Homo sapiens: one gene and its partners. The protein of the gene in region 6 purifies or fractionates together with the protein of the main gene of each other region. This does not show direct contact. Each region holds a gene or a part of one and is shown on either strand. Other genes may lie near its edges.

The links.
Region 1: the proteins of MCTS1 (region 6) and RLN2 purify together in Homo sapiens (affinity purification with mass spectrometry; one large-scale study listed by BioGRID and IntAct). This does not show direct contact.
Region 2: the proteins of MCTS1 (region 6) and IPO5 fractionate together in Homo sapiens (co-fractionation; one large-scale study listed by BioGRID). This does not show direct contact.
Region 3: the proteins of MCTS1 (region 6) and ATIC fractionate together in Homo sapiens (co-fractionation; one large-scale study listed by BioGRID). This does not show direct contact.
Region 4: the proteins of MCTS1 (region 6) and GAB2 purify together in Homo sapiens (co-immunoprecipitation; one large-scale study listed by IntAct). This does not show direct contact.
Region 5: the proteins of MCTS1 (region 6) and CORO1C fractionate together in Homo sapiens (co-fractionation; one large-scale study listed by BioGRID). This does not show direct contact.
Region 7: the proteins of MCTS1 (region 6) and PLPBP fractionate together in Homo sapiens (co-fractionation; one large-scale study listed by BioGRID). This does not show direct contact.

The regions. Positions count from the first base shown.
Region 1 is NC_000009.12:5,301,917-5,306,011, reverse strand, and holds the start of RLN2 (prorelaxin H2 isoform 1 preproprotein), read left to right. Parts: upstream 1-1,295; 5' UTR 1,296-1,431; coding exon 1,432-1,642; intron 1,643-1,746; exon of another isoform or gene 1,747-1,815; coding exon of another isoform or gene 1,816-1,916; intron 1,917-4,095.
Region 2 is NC_000013.11:98,009,175-98,012,674, reverse strand, and holds part of IPO5 (importin-5), read right to left. Parts: intron 2,795-3,500; coding exon 2,662-2,794; intron 2,573-2,661; coding exon 2,451-2,572; intron 430-2,450; coding exon 333-429; intron 1-332. UniProt on the Homo sapiens protein: Functions in nuclear protein import as nuclear transport receptor. Serves as receptor for nuclear localization signals (NLS) in cargo substrates.
Region 3 is NC_000002.12:215,315,059-215,318,558, reverse strand, and holds part of ATIC (bifunctional purine biosynthesis protein ATIC), read right to left. Parts: intron 403-3,500; coding exon 326-402; intron 1-325. UniProt on the Homo sapiens protein: Bifunctional enzyme that catalyzes the last two steps of purine biosynthesis.
Region 4 is NC_000011.10:78,411,321-78,414,820, reverse strand, and holds part of GAB2 (GRB2-associated-binding protein 2), read left to right. Parts: intron 1-3,500. UniProt on the Homo sapiens protein: Adapter protein which acts downstream of several membrane receptors including cytokine, antigen, hormone, cell matrix and growth factor receptors to regulate multiple signaling pathways.
Region 5 is NC_000012.12:108,655,019-108,658,518, forward strand, and holds part of CORO1C (coronin-1C), read right to left. Parts: intron 2,406-3,500; coding exon 2,286-2,405; intron 1-2,285. UniProt on the Homo sapiens protein: Plays a role in directed cell migration by regulating the activation and subcellular location of RAC1. Increases the presence of activated RAC1 at the leading edge of migrating cells.
Region 6 is NC_000023.11:120,607,101-120,610,600, reverse strand, and holds part of MCTS1 (malignant T-cell-amplified sequence 1), read right to left. Parts: intron 2,377-3,500; coding exon 2,243-2,376; intron 1-2,242. UniProt on the Homo sapiens protein: Translation regulator forming a complex with DENR to promote translation reinitiation.
Region 7 is NC_000008.11:37,769,145-37,772,644, forward strand, and holds part of PLPBP (pyridoxal phosphate homeostasis protein), read left to right. Parts: intron 1-3,500. UniProt on the Homo sapiens protein: Pyridoxal 5'-phosphate (PLP)-binding protein, which may be involved in intracellular homeostatic regulation of pyridoxal 5'-phosphate (PLP), the active form of vitamin B6.

The DNA of each region.
Region 1 (4,095 bases), on a different chromosome or scaffold from region 6:
TCAACCCACAAAAATGTTTTCAAACCTCAGTTTTGAGAGGCCTCTCTCAAACTGCGTGTTTTAATGAAAACTCATTTAAAAGCATTGATTGCATCTGACCATCTCATAGTCTTGGTCAGGTATTTTTTGAAGAATTACACATTGCTTGGCATTTGACCAATGCTAAGTGGGCCTACTGACATCACCAGCAATCTAGAAATTAGAATTATTTGATTCCATAGTTATGTTTGTAACTAAGAGATTGTTATTCTTTTATTTCAAAGCTACCCTAATGTCCTGCATGTCTCCAGTTTATCTGATGGAGCTGAACTAATCTGAGTATATTATGAACACAAGCAAGTAAGTTATTTTAAAAAATGAACCTACTTGTACTAAAAATTTACAGGTAGAAGGGTTGTCTACTAACCATATTACCTAGAACAGTGTGGATCTTTAGAAAGTTAAATTAAATGATGGTAAAAAATCACCTCTTACCAGGTGCAGCAAACACAAAATACAGTAAACAAACAAACATATCTTTGTGCTGTAATTTGTTACCAAAATATTCTTTGTGGGATTGTGGGATTTCCACTGCTTTTTTTTCTTCTCTCTCTCTCTCTCTCTCTCTCTGTGTGTGTGTGTGTGTGTGTGTGTGTGTGTGTGTGTGTGTGTGGTATGTTCTCCAGTCTCCAGAGATGTAGATTAGAATTTTAAATTAAAATGTTCAGATAACTAGTTACAATCAAATTTATCCCCAAGAGTGGAAGGAAAGTGCAATGGAGAAATTGTTTTGTAAATTAAAGACATTACTGCACAAGCCTAACATGATGTTACTGGGGATTTTAATGTTTTTACCTGCATTCAGATTAAAAGTCATCAGTTTTCCCTGTCATCAACAATTTATTTATTCATCCATTCTATTTTTATATTTTTATGGATTGATATACCCAACACTATACTAATTAACCCAATTTACAAGATAATCTATAATCTTATTTAGGTTAGAAGGGTTTTTTGGCAAATGTTCACTCTAGAAAACTGAGTTGTAAGAATATGGGTGATCTCAAATTTGTTTCTGTGTGTGTAAAAGGAAAGGCTTCATATCTAAAATGACTTTACCTCAGTATACTAAATTGTTTGAGGGTAATGAATGAGAAGAACACAACTGTAAAAGGGCCAAGGACAGAGGGATGGGCAAATGAAGGAAAGGCAGAGAGGGAGACCAAGAGCTGAGGGGGAAAATTCTGTGGAGGGGTGTGGGAAAGGGGTGGAGCTGGCACCCTTGCCTTAAAAGCTGAGTGATAGCCCAAGGGATACAAAAGACCGCTTGAGCCGGGTAGGGAAAGCAGCCTAAAGCCCGGGACAGGCACACAGGCCCAGGTGTGTAGGCCACAGCAGCTGCAGTCCTGAAAGGCTGCAACGTCCCGACCTCCAGGAGAGACCAGGCCCAGGATGCCTCGCCTGTTTTTTTTCCACCTGCTAGGAGTCTGTTTACTACTGAACCAATTTTCCAGAGCAGTCGCGGACTCATGGATGGAGGAAGTTATTAAATTATGCGGCCGCGAATTAGTTCGCGCGCAGATTGCCATTTGCGGCATGAGCACCTGGAGCAAAAGGTCTCTGAGCCAGGAAGATGCTCCTCAGACACCTAGACCAGTGGCAGGTGAGAGCTCCCGCCCCCTCCCGGCCTTCCCGCGCTTCCCATTGGTTACTCTGGGGCGGCCGCCCAATTGGAACGGCGGCCTGCACGTCCGACTCGAGATCTCATTGGCTGCCACCGCTCAGCCCCTACTCAGCCGTGGCTGGTCCCTAAAGTTTGGGCTTTTCCTTTGCCAGGTGATTTTATTCAAACAGTCTCACTGGGAATCTCACCGGACGGAGGGAAAGCACTGAGAACAGGAAGCTGCTTCACCCGAGAGTTCCTTGGTGCCCTTTCCGTAAGGCAGTCAGAGCGACGGGGTGGAAAGGGAGGGGAAGCCTCAGAGGAGGTGACGCCGCCCGGAGACCCGCAGGAGGCCGGGCGCACTCCTGCACCCCACAGGAAAGCCAGGCGGCCAGACAGCGGGCGTGCTGGTGGGGGCACCTGAACAGGGCTTCTCGGATAGAGAGGAGAGGGGACAAACACTGAGGCGGCGCGCTAGTTATCAAGCCTGTTTGCGCGCCTGTAGGACGGGGCAACACTCTGAGGTCTCTGTGAGGGTCCCGTGATGGGAAGACAGGAAGGGCCTTACACTTAATGACTCTCCTAGTCCAGAAGTTGGGCTGTGGCCTTTGCCATTGGAAACGTTCTTTAAAATAAACAAACAGAAAATCCCAAAGGAAAGAGTCTGACCTCCCGCTTCTTTGATCTGGGTATTGAAGTTCATTTGTGAGGCAGGGGATGGAAGAGAAAGGAAAGGCTTGAATGCCTTTAGGAGAAACTCAAGAGGACCAGAGACAAGGAAAGCAGGCCGTTCAGACCATCATAGCTGAAGACCCTACTGATGCTTTCAAGCATTTGGAAGCTGCAGTGGGTTTGCTTTAAAGGCAAGCTCTTAGAGTTGAGTACAGCTCAATCTGAAATGGCTTTTAAAAATATTTTAGTATTTATAAAGTAGCAGTGGAAACTCATGGAGGTATATACTAGTCTAAGAAGTGTAACGGGTCATATTAAATTCAGAGAAAGTAACCGCAGTTGCAAATACTAAGTGTTTTGTATTAGTATGACATGTAATTTATGATAAACCGCAACTAAATTTTATAGGCTATATGCATATACTATATATAAATGACTCTAACAGAAATACATTTACTTCTCTTTTATGAGATTTAAAGTATGCTTCTAAAGTTATTTACTTTTCTACATTGTTAGAGTTTGATTTATTTAATGGCAGTTTTTACATGACTTTTGTATAACATTAGTACAAAAATACCACAACGTCTAGGAATTTAGTGATAAAAAGTAGAGAAGACCGGATTGCATTGCATTTGCTTTATTATTCCACATTTTCTGACTATAAAAGTAGTAATGCTCATATTAAAGACAAATGTACATTAATGCAGCGTGAAAAATGAGAAGCACTCGTAGATATTAAGGACTTTGAAAAGTATATGTGAATTTTATGAGAAAATGAAATTATATTAAACAAGTAAGTGGAAAGAAATGTTAACATTTGGATAGGTATATGTATATATCTTTTGCATTTTCACTCACCATTATACTTTGAGCAGTTTCTCACATTGTTATTATCCCAAAACACAATTTGAAATTCCTGTGTAGTATTTTTTGTCATAAATCTGCCACATACACTTAAGGATTCTTTGGTGGATATTTAGTTTATTTCTAAATTGTTGCTGAAAATACTTCATTAAGCACATTTGTATATAGATATGGCTACATTTTTATTTCCTTTGAAGAGACATGAGATTACAAAGTATTTTTAAAGAATTTTCTTTATTGATGTGCAGTATAATTTAACTGAAAGTAACCTCAGAAAATATTGCCTGCAGGTGGAGATTAAGACAAATGTTTACCATTACTAGGTAGGAATCGTTTTGGAAGTACATGTCAGTAATTTGTGATTAATTTGAGTTTTCAGACTTCTACTGTTAGGTAGTTGCTATTTGCTTCCACATTATTACATTGTTAGCCATCCATTTCATCCTACAATATGTGCTAAAATCATATTCACTGCATCCCTTTTAAAAATAAGATACCCTTTAAACCAGAAGAGGCCTATTTTAGTGAGATTTACATCCAAAATAATAAGTGAATAAGGGTATTTGTATGAATTCAGACAGAATATTTTCTTTGAGCCTAGGTTCCATAGCTAAAGGTGTTATGGATTATGAAATATTTCAAAACAGGTTTAAAAATATAATTTTAATAAAAGTATAAAATACACAGCCTATGAACAAACCTAATACAAACTATAACTGTTTTGGCTGACTCATTTAACTGGCTTTAAGTATATAGAAAATTACCATCAGCTTCTTTCAGTATTTAATAAGGCCCCAACTACAGAAAGTTTAGGTTGGATCAAAGAGAGGTTTTTATGATGAAATTGAATTAAACTTAGGATGTCTTACTGAGGGGAAATGCCAAAACCTCTCATTTAACCAAAAACGATATAAATT
Region 2 (3,500 bases), on a different chromosome or scaffold from region 6:
ATAAAAGTCTTATTTTCTTAACGTTTACCAAAAGATATTTGGGGAAAGTAGCAACTATATATAATTGTAATCATTTGCTAATTATCCTTAAATCCTTAAGTGGGCCACAGAAAGCTGACAAACATAGGATAGGTCACGTTTTCTTTTTCATGTTTTGGCACAAGTGGAAACAAAGGCACATGCAGAGAACCGAGTTTATCACCTAAGAGTACACTTAGTGCAAATACAAACAATCATGGTGAAGTCTACTTCAGTCAACACTGTCTAATACTCCAAGAAACTACAAGTTTACTAAATCTAGACATGTTTTGTATTCAGAAGTTGTAGGATATCATCGTGGAAATAAAATTTCAGTAAAGGGACCATCAGTTTGACAACCTGTTCGGTGTACTCCACAAAGCCTTCCTTTAACTCCTTAGCATAGCAAACCTGTAACCAAAGTATTGGGAGGAAATAAAGATTCATGTTAGTCTTCAAGCATTAATATTAACAAACAGCAAAATCATAAGGACCACAGGAGGTTGTATTTTGACTAGAACTACATTTAAAGTTGCATGTAGAACTGTCAAATTAGTCTTCCAACTAAAAAGAGTCTTAAAAGAAGGGTCATGAAATGATTGTAGTATTGGTGAGTGACAAAAAGAAAAAAAAAAAGGAAATTATTGTCGTATATATTGTCCCTTCAAAGGCTGGAATCATTCGTATTCCATTCAGCAAGTTTCAGCAATACATCAAACAAAATGTATCACTTAATTGAGGAAAAATCATTCTAAAAGATACAAAAAACCCTGAAACCATCAGTTAATTGAAGCATTTACTTTGTAAATCTGTAGAAAACGCTTCTGTTATTTTGTATTTTTAAAAAATCATGGCTGGGCACGGTGGCTCATGCTTGTAATCCCAGCACTTTGGGAGGCTGAGGCTGGTAGATCACGAGGTCAGGAGTTCGAGACCAGCCTGGCCAACACAGTGAAACCCCGTCTCTACTAAAAATACAAAAATTAGCCAGGCATGGTGGCGGGCACCTGTAATGCCAGGTACTTGGGAGGCTGAGGCAGGAGAATCGCTTGAACCCAGGAGGTGGAGGTGGCAGTGAGCCGGGATGGCACCACTATACTCCAGCCTGGCTGACAGAGTTAGACGGATCACGAGGTCAGGAGTTCAAGACCAGCCTGGCCAACATGGTGAAAACCCGTCTCTACTAAAGATACAAAAAATTAGCCAGGCATGGTGGCGTGCACCTGTAATCCTAGCTACTCGGGAGGTTAAGGCAGGAGAATCACTTGAACCCAGGAGACGGAGGCTGCAGTGAGCTGAGATCAAGCCACTGTACTCCAGCCTGAGCGACAGAGTAAGACTCTGTTTCAAAAAGCAAAACAAACAAACAAACAAACAAAAAAAACCCCAAAAACCCAATTGTTTCATTCTCTTCTACTACATCTAAAGATTAATTCTGTTTAAAGATGTTATTATTTGTATTTGCTTTCCAGTTGAGAGAAAAAACCCACAAAAATCCAAAGTGTTTATAATTTATAGATACTAAGTATTGAAGATGACAATAAGAAATACATTAATTTCTAAAATCTAACTTTAAAAGTAAGTATTGGCCAGGTGCAGTGGCTCATGCCTGTAATCCCAGGTCATGGCAGGCGGATCACCTGAGGTCAGGAGTTGGAAACCAGCCTGGCCAAAATGGTGAAACCTCATCTCTACTAAAAATACAAAAAGTAGCCAGCTGTGGTGGCAGGCGCCTGTAATCCCAGCTACTCGGGAGGCTGAGGCAGGAGAATCAACTGAACGCCAGAGGTGGAGGTTGCAGTGAGTCGAGATCGTGCCACTGCACTCCAGCCTGGGTGAAAAAGAGAGACTCCACCTCAAAAAAAAAAAAAAAAAAGGATTATCCTTCACTTTAAAACGCATGCTCATAAAGAAAACAAAAAGAAAACTAGGAACTAAACATGCATATGCACACCACAAACACCATAAGGGATAATAACCGAACATTTTGATTTTCCTGCCATATCTGTTTTTTTACACAATTGAAATCATACAAGTTTTGTTTCACATTAAATAGCATGAACACACTTCTGTTCATTTGTTTAAAAAACATTCCATGGCCACCTACTATAGACTAAGAACAAAACCAACAAAAATCCTTCCCTCATGTAGCTTATAAACTTTTTGTAATGGCTGTATATTACTCCAAGGCACAGTAATTCATCTTCCCACTAACAGGAATTTGGGCTATTTGTTGTTTTTTGCTATTTAAAACAGCACTGATAATGAAAGGTTTATCCATACGATTTCTTTAAAATGGAAAGAAAACTTTACTTTTTAAGGAACATATTACTGGCTCTCCAAAGTAATTTCTTTAGCAGCTATTAAAAGCACTCATATGAAATGTATATAAGATGTAAAATAAAAGTTTAGTAAAAACAGTGCTCTCTTACCAACATCTGGCAAGCAGTTGATTTTTCTTCTAGTCCTGCAGTTTTAATACCAAAGCTTTGCTGATCTCCAAGGTTCACAAATTCCCAACCATCATCATCACTCATATTCTCCATGTCTTGGGCTATTAACGGAGAAGAAAACAAATGCATATGAAAAATAATAACAAAGAGAGAACTATTATAACCGATAGCTCCTTCTAAAGACACCTACTATCTAAAAGGGCTACTTCGGGCTTAATTGAAGCCGTCTTCATTAAAGGCCCCATAACCACTGGAAGGTATTGCTGAAATTCTTTTCCAAGGATTTTGCACATTCTGGCCCATGCTGAGATCATGTAAGAGATCTGGGGAAAAATTTTAAAATTAAAATAGATTAAAAAACAATGGGTAAACGTGATAAAGAAAGCCATTTCCTTATTTCATAGAAACAATGTTTTATTGATATGTTCACAGTACTTTAAGCAGTAAGAGCATTTCTAAAGGTTATGTACTTAAAAGGTTCAGAATCAATAATGAAATCCCTGTGAACTCACTACACTGGGATATGGACAGCAGGTGAGGCAAAACACAAAGACCAGAACCTTGGGTATTTCTTTCTACTTTCAGTAAGTGATAATGGTTTTCTTTCTTAGCATCTGAATCATCTAAATGAAACTAATCACCTAAACAAAACCAAACACTTCATCAACTCCCAGTTACAAATTTTTTGAAGACAGAAATGTATTTTATCTGACTCTGTATCCCTATTGCCTGCCACTCCATTCATTAAACATTTATTAAAACCCAAGAAACAAAACATCCTTTTCTCTTAGCTGTTATAATTTTCTCATAAGTGGCTGAGTATATTTAAAACACCTCTTCTCCTATTACTGTGTTTACACAGACTTTATCATCTGCAAATTACCTAGAGAATCTGGTTCCATTCACCACCCCTGCAACCTAGAAAGTGATTCTTATCCCCTGATATCTGTCATCCACCTACCTATTTATCTATTGAGCATGCATGGACACATGCCCCACCTCTTAATGATTTTATATGTAAAAGTCCAC
Region 3 (3,500 bases), on a different chromosome or scaffold from region 6:
AGTTTGAACTATTTTAAAAGTATTTTCATACGATGAAATCTAAATATCTTCAGCAACTTGAGCAGGAAACACCAGACTCTAAATTAGGTATCAGGTCAGGACTAATAGCAAGCAGAGGAAAACAATCTGAATTCATCAAGTAGTAAGACAAGCTGGATTTTAAACCAGTTCTAACGTATTATGAAATCTGGCAGCAACTTCATAACATTAACTTTATATGTAAATTTCTCTTGAGCCTTTTTCTTCCTTTATTTTAGGACGCTATCAACTAAAATATTCCTGGAAACCACTGACTGTTTTTACATTAAAGATACCAACCACTTACCAGCATGGACTGCAGGATGCAAAGTTTTCACACGTCCCCCCAACATTTCAGGAAATCCCGTCAACTCAGAGACATCTCTGAAAAACAGATAAACAGAATGGTACTACTGGTGTGGCTGAATTGTAATTTTCACTATTCAAAGCATCTACTGTTTTCATTTCAAGAGATTTTGAGCCTGAATTCAACGTGAAAATTCTGATTTTTTAAAGTATTTCACTATATTTTATTTCTTAAGTAAAATTCTATTTACTTCCGAAAAAAAGTTTATTTAATTTATTTCCTAACTGTTGTGTATGTTCAGGGATAATTGGTAACTACTACAGCACTGGTTTTATAATTTTCAGAGCATTTAGAAACTGAATCATAAGCCATACTCATTAAATATTACTAAGACATACAACTGAGAATTTGGCAGTATGTAACAAAAAGCATTAAAAATATCCTTGGCCGGGCACGGTGGCTCATGGCTGTAAACCCAGCACTTTGGAAGGCTGAGGCAGGTGGATCACCTGAGGAGGGGAGTTTGAGACCAGCCTGGCCAACATGATGAAACCCCAGCTCTACTAAAAAAATACAAAAAATTAGCCGAGCGTGATGGCGGGCACCTGTAATCCCAGCTACTGGGGAGGCTGAGGCAGGAGAATCACTTGAACCCAAGAGTTGGAGGTCGCAGTGAGCCGAGATCATGCCACTGCACTCCAGCCTGGGCGACAGAGCAAGACTCCATCTCAAAAAACAACAACAACAACACATGAAGATGGCATATCAAGTGAGTGAAGACATAAAAGACTGTTTAATAAAGTGGTGTTGCTATTGGAATAACGGGTTAAACCCAAACAAAAATATATTCCTTATGAATCAAAGGTTTAGCATTTAAAAAATCATGCATGTAGCAAAATTAAATATGTGAGGAATGCTTTCCAAGTTTTAAACAAAAGATTGAGAGTTCTGATTACAGAAATGTTAAATAAAAAGTTTTACATGGGAAAAAAAAGTAAACTAGAAAAAATAATCACACAATGTGACAAAGGGTCAAGTGAAGGACAGTAAATATTAATCCATATCACAAAGCAGACCCCTAGAAAGTCGTAACCACGAACACTCTGGCAGACTTTATAAGTTGTAATGGTGTGTAAAAATGCCCACAATATATAAGAAAAAATAAAGCAGGGGCCAGGTGGGGTGGCTCACACCTGTAATCCCAGCACTTTGGGAGGCCAAGGCGAATGGATCACCTGAGGTAAGGGAGTTCCAGACCAGCCTGACCAACATGGTGAAACCCCGCCTCTACTAAAAATACAAAATTAGCCAGGCATGGTGGGGCATGCCTATAATCCCAGCTACTTGGGAGGCTGAGGCAGGAGAATCGCTTGAACCCGGGAGGCGGAGGTTGCAGTGAGCCAAGATTGTGCCACTGCATTTCAACCTGGGCAACAACAGCAAAACTCCGTCTCAAAAAATAAATAAATACATAAAAATAAATAAAGCAGGAAGCAAAACTGCATCTATCTTCTGTGTAAGCTATGAAATAAAGTACATGCTTATAAAAATGCTTGAAGAAAAATATACTAGCATGTTAAGAATTACAATCCATTTTTACTACCTTCTTTATAGTTGTCCATATTTTCGAATTTTCTACAATCAACATATATAGTTTTTGAGATGGGATCTCACTATGTTGCCCAGCCTGGAGTACAGTGATTATTCACAGGCAAGATTACAGTCCATGGCAGCCTAGAACTCCTGGGCTTATTAAGTAATCCTCCAAGTAGCTGAGACTATAATAAACACTTTAAAGCAGCAAGTTCTGCCAGTAAGATACGGAATTTCCTGGGTAGATTCTCCTGTTAAGGGGAGCCATTTGCAAATGACTGGTGTTTGACCAATGACACACACAGTTCCAACATCCACAAACTGGTGACATAAGTGTTTTCAAATTCAAAATTTCTTTTCCTGGGGTTCAGGAAATAAAATCCATTTCCTCCAAATGAAGACAGTCACTTAAAACTTAGAGAAGGCGGATTTATTTCTAGAATTAAACATTTGGGGTAATTAAAAAGCTTGCTACTCCTTTGAACTGAAGAATTTATACATAATGGCTGTAGTCTCGGGAAATAATTCTATGTATGCTCACTGCTGTATACTCACTAATTAAAATCCATCAGTTTACCTCATGACAAGGTAATGGTTAACTTCCTGGGATAAAATTATTGCAGATAACAACACCCAAAAATATGCTCAGAAGCAGCCTCAGAACCAAGATCTTTTTTTTTTTTTTTGAGACAGTGTTTCTCTCTGTCATCCAGGCTGGAGTGTAGTGGTGGAATCTCGGCTCACTGCAACCTCCACCTCCTGGGTTCAAGCAATTCTCCTGCCTCAGCCTCCTGAGTAGCTGGGATTACAGGTGCACGCCACCACACCCGGCTGATTCTTTTTTGTATTTTTAGCAGAGATGGAGTTGCACCATGTTGGCCAGGCTGGGCTCAAACTCCTGACCTCAGATGATCCAGCAGCCTCAGCCTCCCAAAGTGCTGGGATTACAGGGGTGAGCCACTGCGCCCAGCCAGAACCAAGACCTTGTCCAGGCATGGTGGATCACACTTGTAATCCCAGCACTTTGGGAGGCCAAGGCAGGCAAAATTGCTTAAGCCCTAGAGTTCAAGACCAGACAGACAACATGGTGAAACCATCTCTATGAAAAATACAAAAATTAGTTGGGCATGCTGGTGTGCAGCTGTAGTCCCAGATACTCAGGAGGCTGAGGTGGAAGGATTGCCTCAGCCTGGGAGATCGAGGCTGCAATTAGCCATGATTGTGCCACTGCACTCCAGCCTGGGTGACAGAGTAAAACCCTCTAAAAAAATATATATATATAGCTTTCTCCTGCCCTCTTGCCTCTCACCCTTCATTCTTCCCTGAAGTCACAGAAATGAGAATTTCTCTTCCCCAGGGCAGTTTACAGAAACTAAAACTCTTTTTCCCCAAAGCCAGTCATAAGATTTAAACTTATGATTCTAACTTTCCACTGGCTTTCTGTCTAGGAGCTGGACGTAAAGAAATCCTCTCATCTCCTTGCCCATTAGTAGGTCAGGAGATCCTTAGGGGGTGGAGAAAGAATTTTAGAGAAGCCAAGAAGAATCTGGACAGACAGGCTTTCCTGGCTTTCTCCACCTCA
Region 4 (3,500 bases), on a different chromosome or scaffold from region 6:
GAAGCAAAGGCAAATGTTTGAGCAATTAGTTTTCAGGGATTTTTTTCATCAGCCTTTTCTAGTTAATTAAGTATAAGTATAAGAGACCTATCTGCTATTTACTGAGTGCCCTGGAGAAATTGCAAAAAGTGTCTCTGGAAAATGCTGACTATTGCCTCTGGGGCATCCTGATATGGCTGCAGTGGGAGGCCGGCAGAAGTAACAACCCTCCCATCGTGCCTCAGTGTATTTGTGTGTGTATGCGCGTGCATGCAAATGCATACACACGTACATGTATATAATTATTAAACAGAATTTTCTTGAGGAAAAACATTTTATTAATATGACCTACACTGCATTGTAGTTTTCTATCAATTTCACTGGATTAAAAGATTGAGGGAATAAGATTGGCAGACTACCCCCTAGTGGCTAACTTGAAGAAAGTTGTGCACAAATTGTAAAGAACTACTGCATTAAGGTAACAGTAATTGTTTATTTCCATTATATTTATTAAATATACTTATTAAATCTATGTCCCAGGCACTGGATCAGGTGCTTGGAATAAAAATCCAGTAAACAGAAAAAAAAATTAATCCAGTCTTTCAGTCTTAGCAATGGCTTTGCCTTCTCCTTCAAAGGAAAATTGAAATGATGAGGGAGTAGTTGTCTGTACGTACGATGAATGGCCACATTTTCAAATTTACTTGTATCTGCATAGTTCCTTTCTTTCTTCCTTTTTTTTTTTTTTTTTTTTGAGACAGAGTTTCACTTTTGTTGCCTAGGCTGGAGTGCAATGCACGATCTGGGCTCACTGCAACCTTTGCCTCCTGGGTTCAAGCGATTCTCCTGCCTCAGCCTCCCAAGTAGCTGGGATTACAGGCATGCATCACCACACCTGGCTAATTTTGTATTTTTAGTAGAGATGAGGCTTGACCACGTTGGTGAGGCTGGTCTTGAACTCCTGACCTCAGGTGATCCACCCGCCTCGGCCTCCCACAGTGCTGGGATTACAGACAGACATGAGCCACCGCGCCCAGCCTGCATGGTTCCTTTCTTGTTTCCTTTTCTTAGAGTAGATGAAGTGCCACTTCTATCTGAGCTAATCCTGCTACTTATACTTTGAATCATATCTTCTCCTCCCTACTCAAATAATTCTTATCCTGTAACACATCTTCAACTTCTTTCCCTCTCTGTACTACCTACTTTTTTTCAGGGATAAACTTGGTGGTGGTTTATGCAGTCTTCCTTTCTCCCACCTTCTTCTCAGTCGGCTCCAGTGGAAACCTACTTTGTTATTCACCAAAGCTATTCTGACAAAGGCACCAGCGATACCCAGGTCACTAAACTCAGAGGATGATTTTTTACTCCTCATTTTAATTAATCTCTTCACTGCTTGGTCATAGTTGACCACTCTTTTTTAAAACACCTTCCTCTTATCTTGGCTGACACTATAAATGCCTGTTATTTCTCCTTTTCTGGCTACTCTATATTTCCTTTGCTAGACTGACCCTTTTATCCAGTCCTTAAAGGTTGAAGCTCCTTTATAGTCATAGTGGCTGTGTGGTTTCTCCCCTTTGGCAACCTTGTCCATTCTACTGGCTTCAGTTATCATTTGCATGGTGGTCATCAAGTTAAATTTCCATCTCAGAGTTGTGTTCTGAACTTCAGACTTACATATCCAACTGTTAACTGGGCATCTCTATTTGAATGTTTCCCAGTCAACACAAACTCACCACTTCCAAAACTAAACTCTTCTTTGTTCATCTCTTCACTCCACATCTGCTCAGTAAACAGTGCCACTAAGCACCTACTTGCTCAGATGAGAAACTTGGGCATCATCTTTGACTCCCCGTCACCCACTATCCCACATCTAATCTGTCACCAAAACCCATTAGTGGTATCATCTAAATATCTTGTTATACGCTTCTTCATCCCCACTGCCATGACTTTTAGGATTATTTTAGTAGCCATCTGTTGAGCACTTACTTTGTACCAGGCACTATGCTTAGACCATTGATCTTTTAATGTAGTAATTTAGCCCTATAATAAGGGAAGCAACTTACCCAAAGTCATCTAGCTTTGTCCTAAAGCCTGGGCTTTTTAAAAAAATTAAACATTTCATTTTGAGGTAATTCTACATGCACATCTAGTTGTAAGAAATAGTAAACAAAGATTTATGTAGCCATTATCCAGTTTTCCTTAATGGTAACATCTTGCAAAATTATAGTACAGTATCACAACAGTATATTGACAATGATACAGTCAAGATACAGAGCATTTCCATCATGATAGGATTTTTTATGTTGCCCTTTTATAATCGTATTCACTACCATCCCACCCCTACCACATCCTTAATCTGTGACAACTACTAATCTGTTCTCTGATATTTCATGTGTGTTATTTAAATGGATTCATGCAGTACTTAAGATTTTGAACTTTTTTTTATTCAGCATAATTCTCTGGAGATTCATCCTCATTTCATGCATCAATAGTTATTGTTTTTTATTGCTAAGTAGTATTTCATGGTATGGATGTACCACACAGTCTGTTTATTTAACCATTCACCCGTTAGTTCTCATTTACATTTCCCTTATGGCTAATGATGTTGAACATCTTTTCATATGATTATTTGCCATCTGTATATCCTCTTTGGTCAAATGTCTTCAAGAATTTGAGTATTTTATATATAGGTTTTTTTTTTTTGAGATGGAGTTTTGCTCTTGTTACCCAGGCTGGAGTGCAATGGCATGATCTCGGCTCCCCAGGTTCAAGTGATTCTCTTTGTTGTTGTTGTTGTTGTTGTTGTTGTTTTTAGACAGATTCTCACTCTGTCACCCAGGCTGGAGTGCGGTGGCACAGTCTTGGCTCACTGCAACCTCTGCCTCCCAGGTTCAAGCGATTCTCCTGCCTCAGCCTCCTGAGTAGCTGGGACTACAGGTGTGCGCCACCATGCCCAGCTCATTTTTGTATTTTTAGTAGAGACAGGGTTTCACCATGTTGGCCAGGATGGTCTCAATCTCTTGACCTCGTGATCCGCCCACCTTGGCCTCCCAAAGTGCTGGGATTACAGGCGTGAGCCACTGCGCCGGCTTTCCTGGTTTTTTTTTTTCTACACATTTTACAGGTTTATGTTTTTCCTTTAAGTCCGTGATCCACTGTGAGTTAATTTTCATGTAAGATGTGAGACTTAGATTGAGGTTCTTTTGTTGTTGTCATTGTTGTTGACAAAGCCATCCTACTTCCATTGAATTGCTTTTCCGTCTTTGTCAAAAATCAGTTGGACGTATTTGTGTGGGTCTGTTTCTGTTGTCTCTGTTTTGGTCCATTTTTCCATGTGTCTGTCCCTCTGCAAATACCATAGAATCTTGCCAACTCTAGCTATATTGTAAGTCTTGAAATCTGGTAGCCTGATTCCTCTACTTTATTCTTATTTTTCAAAGTGTTTTAGCTATTCTATTATCTTTACCTTTCAATACAAATTTTAGAATAATCTTGTTTATGCAAAAAAAAGAAAGTCTTGC
Region 5 (3,500 bases), on a different chromosome or scaffold from region 6:
AAAGTACTTCTTTAATTATAAAATATGTGTGCTTTTAAAAAGTTGAAAGATATAAAAAAGAACATAAAAATCATTCCATCAAAATCCTACAGCCCAGTGGGTGACAGAAGCTATTATCATTTTGATCTATTTCCTTCCGACACATGTACACAGAGATTGAGATGATAGAATGTATGTTGTATTTTTCCCCACTTAAGCTAATTATGAACATTTTCCCAAGCATGACTATTTTGATTTAGACAACTGATCATATTATTTATGAAATATGAACTTATTTTCCAAATCCAAAACACTAGATTCTTCATTCTTTTTAAAAAATATAGTCCCCTCCCTCTCCCCTTCCCCCTCCCCCTCCCCCTCTCCCTCTCCCCACGGTCTCCCTCTCCCTCTCTTTCCACGCTCTCCCTCTGATGCCGAGCCGAAGCTGGACGCTGCCATCTCGACTCACTGCAACCTCCCTGCCTGATTCTCCTGCCTCAGCCTGCTGAGTGCCTGCGATTGCAAGCGCGCACCGCCACGCCTGACTGGTTTTCGTATTTTTTTGGTGGAGACGGGGTTTCGCTGTGTTGGCGGGGCTGGTCTCCAGCTCCTGACCACGAGTAATCCGCCAGCCTCGGCCTCCCGAGGTGCCGGGATTGCAAACGGAGTCTCGTTCACTCAGTGCTCAATGTTGCCCGGGCTGGAGTGCAGTGGTGTGATCTCGGCTAGCTACAACCTCCACCTCCCAGCCGCCTGCCTTGGCCTCCCAAAGTGCCCAGATTGCAGCCTCTGCCCGGCCACCACCCTGTCTGGGAGGTGAGGGGCATCTCTGCCTGGCCGCCCATCGTCTGGGATGTGAGGAGCCCCTCTGCCCGGCTGCCCAGTCTGGGAAGTGAGGAGCGCCTCTTCCCGGCCGCCATCCCGTCTAGGAAGTGAGGAGCGTCTCTGCCCGGCCGCCCATCGTCTGAGATGTGGGGAGCGCCTCTGCTCCGCCGCCCCGTCTGGGATGTGAGGAGCGCCTCTGCCCGGCCGGGACCCCGTCTGGGAGGTTAGGAGCGTCTCTGCCTGGCCGACCCGTCTGAGAAGTGAGGAGCCCCTCTGCCCGGCAGCCGCCCCGTCTGAGAAGTGAGGAGCCCCTCCACCCGGCAGCCGCCCCGTCTGAGAAGTGAGGAGCCCCTCCGCCCGGCAGCCGCCCCGTCTGAGAAGTGAGGAGCCCCTCCGCCCGGCAGCCACCCCGTCTGGGAAGTGAGGAGCGTCTCTGCCCGGCAGCCACCCCGTCCGGGAGGGAGGTGGGGGCTCAGCCCCCGCCCGGCCAGCCGCCCCGTCCGGGAGGGAGGTGGGGGGTCAGCCCCCACCCGGCCAGCCGCCCCGTCCGGGAGGGAGGTGGGGGGGCAGCCCCCGCCCGGCCAGCAGCCCCATCCGGGAGGGAGGTGGGGGGTCAGCCTCCACCCGGCCACCACCCCATCCGGGAGGTGGGGGGCGCCTCTGCCCTGCCGCCCCTTCTGGGAATTGAGGAGCCCCTCTGCCCGGCCACCATCCTGTCTGGGAGGTGTACCCAACAGCTCATTGAGAACGGGCCATGATGACGATGGCGGTTTTGTGGAATAGAAAAGGGGAAAAGGTGGGGAAAGGATAGAGAAATCAGATTGTTGCTGTGTCTGTGTAGAAGGAAGTAGACATGGGAGACTTCATTTTGCTGTGTACTAAGAAAAATTCTTCTGCCTTGGGATGTTGTTGATCTATGACCTTACCCCCAACCCTGTGCTCTCTGAAACATGTGCTGTGTCCACTCAGGGTTAAATGGATTAAGGGCGGTGCAAGATGTGCTTTGTTGAACAGATGCTTGAAGGCAGCATGCTCGTTAAGAGTCATCACCGCTCCCTAATCTCAAGTACCCAGGGACACAAACACTGCGGAAGGCCGCAGGGTCCTCTCCCTAGGAAAACCAGAGACCTTTGTTCACTTGTTTAACTGCTGACCTTCCCTCCACTATTGTCCTATGACCCTGCCAAATCCCCCTCTGCAAGAAACACCCAAAAATGACCAATAAAATTAAAATTAAAAAAAATTAAAAAAATAAAAAATATATAGTCAACAGCCTCTTCAGGAGTATCAAAAGTATGTCTTTGAAATACATTTACCAGTAAGTCTCCAACGAGGATAAGAACTTCACATCCAATCTAAGACAATCAGGCGTTTAGAAAACTACACTAAGAATCCCATAATCTACTTACTCACTGGAAGACCTGCTCAGAACAGAGAGAAAGCTCAAGTGAAAGCAAGTGGAAAGCCTGGGGAGGGCGTACCGGATTCCAGAGAGCCAGCTGCCGCTCGCTCATGCGGCTGAACCCAGTGGTGAAGACATTGCCATCGGCCAGGAAGATGGCTCTCATGGGTCTTGCTCCTTCATGTGCTTTCTCCTTCTCCTGGAGAGCAAAAAGGCACATGCCACACATTAAACTGCAAGAAGACAAGGTGAGTGGAGAAACTCGGGCACAGATCCAACCTCACCAACTGCCATTCATGTTCACCTGGGTGTGGGAGGGAGGTCAGTGTTAACCATCCCCCTTCCCCAGATGAGGAAACAAAGAGATACTATGTGATCTGGTCAAGGTCCCTCTGTGAGGCTGCAAGAATGCCAGGATTTAACTCAGAAGACTCGCTCTCTCCACCATATCCTGCTGCCAACCCAAGTCTATGCACTGTGAAAATAAAACACATGAAAGGACTCTGACAAATGTTTGTTTCTCAAGAGGATAATAACATAAGGAGATTAGGCATGCCCTACCATTTCTACCAATATCATAGGGCAGAAAGAAGCCTTGTCTAGTTAACGCTTTCCTTGACCTCAGTAGTTTAATGAATGCACTAGGACAACCCTTAGAAGATGTCGGGTGGAGAAAACACTTAACACAGGGCTGGGCAAGTCCCCAGGGCTCAGTAAGCACCAGCTACTATCATTGCCCAACTCTTGAAAAGAGATGCAGCCAAAGAACAACCACATCTCAGGAAGGGCCTCAGAGTGTGGCAAATGAGGACTTCTCAGACTTACTATGTGTAGTTTCAACACCGACTGAAGACCCAAATGTCCATCTTTTGTCAAGGTATGTGATTTTGTTGAGGTCCAGTTTGGGTGGCAGAAACTAAGACACTGAGCTGATGAGAGAACTTGTTGCTTTTCGCCCTGCGCATTTATTTATTTATTTATTTATTTATTTTTGTATTTTTAGTAGAGACAGAGTTTCACCATGTTGGCCAGGCTGGTCTCAAACTCCTGACCTCAAATGATCCACCCACCTCGGCCTCCCAAAGTGCTGGGATTACAAGTGTGAGCCACCATGCCCGGCCACCTGTTGCATCTTTAACAGCTGTGTTTGGAAAAGGGTGAGGAATTGATTCATCAATATTCAATACTAAGCTGCAAAATCAGGAATGCAGCCAATTGGTTTAATTGATCAAGACTTATAAACTCTTAAGGACTCTAGTGAACTGATACAAACTATTTCTTTGTGAAAAAAGGC
Region 6 (3,500 bases):
CACTCTGTTGCCCAGGCTGGAGTGCAATGGCGCAGTCTTGGCTCATTGCAACCTCTGCCTCCCGGGTTCAAGCAATTCTCCTGCCTCAGCCTCCCGAGTAGCTGGTGCTACAGGCGTGTGCCACCACACCCAGCTAATTTTTGTATTTTTAGTAGAGATGGGATTTCACCATGTTGGCCAGGCTGGTCTTGAACTCCTGACCTCATGATCCGCCTGCCTCAGCCTCCCAAAGTGGTGGCATTATAGGCGTGAGCCACCATAGCCGGCCGTTTGTTTTTTTGAGATGGAGTCTTGCTTTGTCACCCGGCTGGAGTGCAGTGGCATGATCTCAGCTCACTGCAACTTCTGCCTCCTGAGTTCAAGCAATTCTCCTGCCTCAACCTCCCTAGTAGATGGGATTACAGGCGCATGCCACCCCACCCAGCTAATTTTTGTATTTTTAGTACAGACAGGGTTTCGTCATGTTGGCCAGGCTTGTCTCGAACTCCTGACCTCAGGTGATCTGCCCGCCTCAGCCTCCTAAAGTGCTGGGATTACAGGCATGAGCCACCACACCCGGCCTGAATGGTGGTTTTATGTAAAGGCTGTTTTAAAATAATAGGTAAATTCCCAGTCTATCTTTAAGAGCCTGATATAACAGTTTCAACCTTTCTAGAAAAACCAGAGTGGTCTTGGTTAACATATGAAGTTTCTGGAATGTTAAACACTGCAGTACATATTTTAAAAAGTCAAGATTCAGGGTACACAAGACCTCTCTGTACCATTTTCTTTAACAACTTTCTCTAAATCTGTAACTGTTTCAAAATAAAAATTATTTTTAAAAGTAAAGACTAGGTACTAAGGAAATTTTCCATTTAAGGTTAACTCCAGAACTATAAATTTACCAACACTTAATAAATATTAAAAACAAACAACAACAACAAAAAACCCGTCCTCACTTTTCTCCCTTGATTTTCAATTCACTCAGTGTTCCAAATATGTGAGCACCTATTAGGCAAAAAGCATGTCAACATAAGCTGTTCCTAGAATATAAACATACTACTTATACTACCTCTTCGCTATAACTGCCCCAACAGAGAATATCATTTTTTTTTCTTATTCTTCTTAAACACACCCCTGGCCAGGTGTGGTGGCTCACACCTGTAATCCCAGCACTTTGGGAGGCCAAAGCGGGTGGATCACCTGAGGTCAGGAGTTTGAGACTAGCCTGACCAACATGGTGAAACCCTGTCTCTACTAAAAATACAAAAATGAGCCGGGCGTGGTAGTGGGTGCCTGTAACCTCAGCTACTCGAGGGGCTGAGGCAGGAGAATTGCTTGAACCCAGGAGGCAGATGTTGCAGTGAGACAAGATCGTGCCACTGCACTCCAGCTTGGACGACAGAGCGAGACTCCATCTCAAAAACTAAAATAAGATAAACACACTCTAAAAGTAGTTTCCCTATTCCCACCAAGTACCATTCCTTTTCTATACCCGAGGCAAATGGCTACTTTAGCTATGATAAAGGAGAAGATGTTCTCCTGTCCAGAATAGTCACAAAAATCTATTTAATCCAGAAAATAGCTGAAACAGCATGGTAGAAATGGAAATAATGCAGAATTATTCAGCTATGTCATGAGTTGAATCGATCTTTAAGGACCATCTGGGACTCTGACATTTCTCTTTGAGAAAACGTGCTCTGAGGCCCCCAAACTCAACTTTTCAAATAATTAATTTTCAAAATAAAAGTTGGAGGTTGCCAATATTTCCCACTATTCACTCCTAACACAAAATTGTTGCTTGGTAAGAGATACCTATACCTGGTGCCTAAATTCTTTTCCCTTTTGAGAGCTTTCACTCCAACGTATGTCAGTAAGTCAAAATGAACATTACAGTGGCAAGTTGATATCCAAAAAGCTGATCCAATTATATCATCTATATCCTTTCCCCTAGTAATCAAGAATTCCCTATTGTGTCCTAAGTCTGATAACAGTAGGCCCTGACTGGGCTGAAATGCAGCTGAGACTCTTCTGTAACTTGTTCTCATTTAACTTCTAAGAAACGACCTAAGATGAGATAATTTAGTAGCAACAAATAAAATTACTTTGTACAACTTCAAATGTAACCAGAAAGGCATGAGATAAGAGTAACAGTAACCTTCAAAAAAGTACATCTAATGTTCTCTTGGATGGTACACCTTTCGCAGTAATGATAAGAGCACAATGAATACATTTTTCAGCAGTTTTAGCCTGGGAAGGATACAACAATGGTATCTACTGCAGCAGGGTAAAGCTTAGCTCCAGGAGAAGTTAAGCCTGGACACATGATATTTGCTCCACTGAGTACAAATTTGATGGCTCCTTTATCAACCTGCTGGTGTGGCAGGATAAAAGGATCTGTAAGAAAAGATATACAATATATTAATAATAAGACTAATGACTCAACAGAAAAAGGCAAAGGATCTGAACAGTATTTCCCCAAATTAATCTGACAGATACAAAAGAAAACTCTGAAACACTATCATTTGTTTACCAAATTGGTAATCTTTTTTGTTTGTTTTTTTGAGACAGGGTCTTGCTCTGCCACCCAGGCTGGAGTACAGTGGAGCAATCAATACCTCACAATAACCTTGAACTCTTGGACTCATGCAATCTTCCCGCCTCAGCATCCCAAGTATTCTCCAAAAACCGTAATTTCAAAACTATGGTTTTTGGAGACTACTTAATATGCCCTGGGAAATTTTTGTGATATAATGTTAAGTGAAAAACGCAGAGTAAAAAAACGATTAAAAAGATCAGTGGTTACCTGGGGTTGGGGAAGTGGGGGGAGGAAGGATGAATAGGTGGAGCACAAAGGATGTTAGGCCAGTAAAACCATTCTGTATGATACTTTAACAGTAGATACTTGACATGTATTTGGGAAAAACCATAAAACTGTAGAATACAAAGAGTAAACCCTAATGTAAACTAAGGACTTGCGTTAATAATAATGTATCAATGCTGGTTCAATTGTTACAAATGTATCATTCCAAAACAAGATGTTATTCATAGGGGAATCTGAACTGGGGAGAGGGAACTCTATTCTTTCTGCTTACTTTTTCTGGAAACCTAAAACTGCTCTAAAAAATAAAAGCCTGTTAATTTAAAAAAAAACTACAAGGGGATGAGGAGAAGTTGGTTAAGGGGTATAAAAATACAGGTCGATAAGTTCTAGTATTCGAGAGTACAATAAGGAAATTATATTTAACAATGATTTACTCTATATTTCAAAATAGCTAGAAGAATTGTAATCTTCTCAACACAAAGATAAACGTTTGAGGTGACAGATACCCTAATTACCCTGATTTGATCATTACACGCTGTATAAAGGTATCAAATATCACATGTACCCCTAAAATATGTACAACTATTATAAATATATATAGGTGGTGGGGGATACAGGCACCACAACAGCAGACAATGTACAGCTATGACGTATCAATTTTTAAAAACTATGTAACAGAGAGCCCAATTTTAAAAAA
Region 7 (3,500 bases), on a different chromosome or scaffold from region 6:
GGTAACATGGCAAAACCCTGTCTCCACTAAAAATACAAAAAATTAGCTGGGCGTAGTGGTGTGTGTCTGTGGTCCCAGCTACCTGGGAGGCTGAGGTAGGACGATCACCTGAGTCCAAAAGGTTAAGCCTGCAGTGAGCTGTGATTGTGCCACTGCACTCCAGCCTGGATGACAGAGGAGACCCTATCTAATAATAATAATAATATTAATAATAATAAATTTTAAAAGAACAACTAGCAGATTTGATCACACAAAAATTAAAGCTTTCTGCATGTCAAAGCAAAAGGGAGGCACAGAGTGGAAGAAAAATAATATTTTTGAAGAGGGAAGAGATTCATATCCAGAATACATAAAGAGCTACAAATCTTTTTGTTTATAGGGAAAAAAAATAGGCAAAAACTGGGGCAATTTATAAGGGGTAAAAATACAAAAGGCCAGTAATCAAATGAAAAATATTCATCCTCAGAGAAATACAAAATCACTAATCAGATTTGTAAAAAATCAAAAAGACTGCTAAGATCCAGTGTTTTGAGGGAGTGAGTAAATGAGTACTCCTTCGTCTTACCAGGAGATTCTAAAACCGTAGAGTCTTGGAAAAACATAAAGATTCCACCAAAAAACTATTATAACTGAAAAACAACTTCAGTAACATTGCAGGATACAAAATAAATATACAAAAATCAGTAGCATTTCTATATGCCAACAGTGAATGATCTGGAAAAGAAATCAGGAAAGTAATCCCATTTACAATAGCTACAAATGAAATACCTAAGAATAAACTTCACCAAAGAAGTGAAAGATTTCTGCAATGAAAACTGTAAAACACTGATGCAAGAATTTGAAGAGGACATGAAAAAATGGAAAGATATTCCATGCTCATGAATTGGAAAAATCAGTATTGTCAAAATGTCCTTATTGCCCAAAGCAATCTACAGATCCAGTGCAGTCCCTATCAGAATACTAGTGACATTCTTCACAGAAATAGAAAAACACAGTCCTGAAATTTATATGGAACCACAAAAGACCCATAATAGCCAAAGCCATCCTGAGCAAAAAACAAAGCTGGAGGAATCACATTACCTGACTTCAAATTATACTGTAGAGCTATAGTAACCAAAACTAGCATAAAAACAGACACATAGACCAATGGAACAGAATAGAGAACTCAGAAATAAATTTGTACATCTACAGAGAATTTATTTTTAACAGAGGTGCCAAGAACATACATTGGGAAAAGGACAATCTCTTCAATAAGTGCTGCTGGGAAAACTAGATATCCATATGCAGAAGAATAAAACTAGACTCCTATCTCTCACCATGTACAAAAATCAAATCAAAATAGATTAAAGACTTAAATCTAAATCCAAGACCTGAAACTACTAAAAGAAAACATTGGGGAAACTCTCCAAGACATTAGTCTGGACAAATTTTGTTTGTTTGTTTGTTTGTTTTGAGACAGGGTCTCACTCTGCACCCAGACTGGAATGCAGTGGCATGATCTCGGCTCACTGCAACCTCCATCTCCTGGGTTCAAGCGATTCTCCTGCCTCAGCCTCCCAAGTAGCTGGGATTACAGGCACGCCCCACCATGCTGGCTAATTTTTGTATTTTTGGTAAAGACGGGGTTTCACCATGTTGGCCAGGCTGGTCTCCAATTCCTGACCTCAGGTGATCCGCCCACCTCAGCCTCCCAAGGTGCTGGGATCGCAGGTGTGAGCCACTGCACCTAGCCATGTTAGAAATATGTAAAGGTGATGGGAGGAGGGAGCGGGGAAGGAGCCAGCAGGCATAGAAGGGGCAGGAAAACCTAACAGAACTGTTGTTTTAGTGCCATTTTCCCTTCTGGATGATCCGTTATACTCATTCAACCTCACAGCTCAATTCATTTCCATAAAGGCTTCTTGAGGCCAGATGCAGTGACTCACACCAGTAATCCCAACACTTTGGGAGGCCAAGGTGGGAGGATCACTTGAAGCCAAATACATATATGTATATTTCTTTCTTTTTTAGTCTTTCTAGTCTTGCTCTGTCACCCAGGCTGGAGTGCAGTGGCGTGATCCCGGCTCACTGCAACCTCTGCCTCCCAGATTGAAGGAATTCTCCTACCTCAGCCTCCCGAGTAGCTGGGATTACAGGCATGTGCCACCAGGCCTGGCTAATTTTTTTTGTATTTTTAATAGAGACAGGGTTTCACCATGTTGGCCAAATGGATCTCAAACTCCTGGCCTCAAGTGATTCGACCACCTCGGCCTCCCCAAGTGCTGGGATTACAGGCGTGAGCCACAATGCCTAGCCATCTCTGGCTAATTTTTTTATTTTTTGGTAGAGACAGGGTTTCACTGTGTTGGACAGGCTGGTCTTGAACTCCTGGCCTCAAGTGATCTGCCCTCCTCAGCCTCCCAAAGTGTGGGGATTACAGGTGTGAGCCACTGCACCTGACCTTGACAAAGATTGCTTGAGTAAATACTCCAAAAGCACAGGCAACCAAAGCAAAAATGGACAAATGGGATCACATCAAGTTAAAAAGCTCTTGCAGGCTGGGCACAGTGGCTCACGCCTGTAATCCCAGCACTTTGGGAGGCCAAGGCCAGCAGATCACGAGGTAAGGAGTTCAAGAACAGCCTGGCCAACATGGCAAAACCCCATCTCTACCAACAATACAAAAATTAGTGAGGTGTAGTGGTGGGTGCCTGTAATCTCAGCTACTTGGGAGGCTGAGGCAGAAGAATAGCTTGAACCCAGGAGGCAGAGGTTGCAGTGAGCCAAGATTGTGCCACTGCACTCTAGCCTGGGCGACAGAGCGAGACTCTGTCTCCAAAAGAAAACAAGCTCTTGCAGAGCAAAGGAAACAACAAAGTGAAGAGACAACTCAGAATGGGAGAAAATATTTGCAAACTGCCCATCTGAAATACTTGTACATAGCACCAAGTTCTATATCCAAGCTTTGTTTTTGTAATAAAAAATAAGAAACAATCTAATATCCATTAACGAGGAATAGTTATGTAAACTGTGATAATCTGTCCTGTGGATTGCTGCAGTTTTTTAGTAGAGATGGGGTTTCACCATGTTGGCCAGGCTGGTGTCAAACTCCTGACCTCAGGTGATCCACCCACCTGGTATTACACGTGTGAGCCACCACACCTGGCCAGTGTTAGGGTCATGGTGATGTCCTTGTTGGATAAGAATACCCTCATCCCAGAAAGTTGAAGAATTGTGGTGATATGCTAGGGAAGCATCTTGGCTTCCACTGGTCATCCTTTCTTCATTGTCATCCTGACCTGTTTCTCTCAGTTTGAACTGAGACATAGATCAAGCCTTTTACTAGGAATCTGTCCGTTACCAGCTTCTTGAAGCTTATGGATGTATATGCTGCCTGATCATGTATGTCAGCTTTTCCCTTATTTACCTTTGCTGATTAGCCAGGGATGGTCTGACATTTGAATTTGTATCTAGTAAAACTGTCACATTTGTCTTCTCAGAGGAACTGAGATTTAACTGTG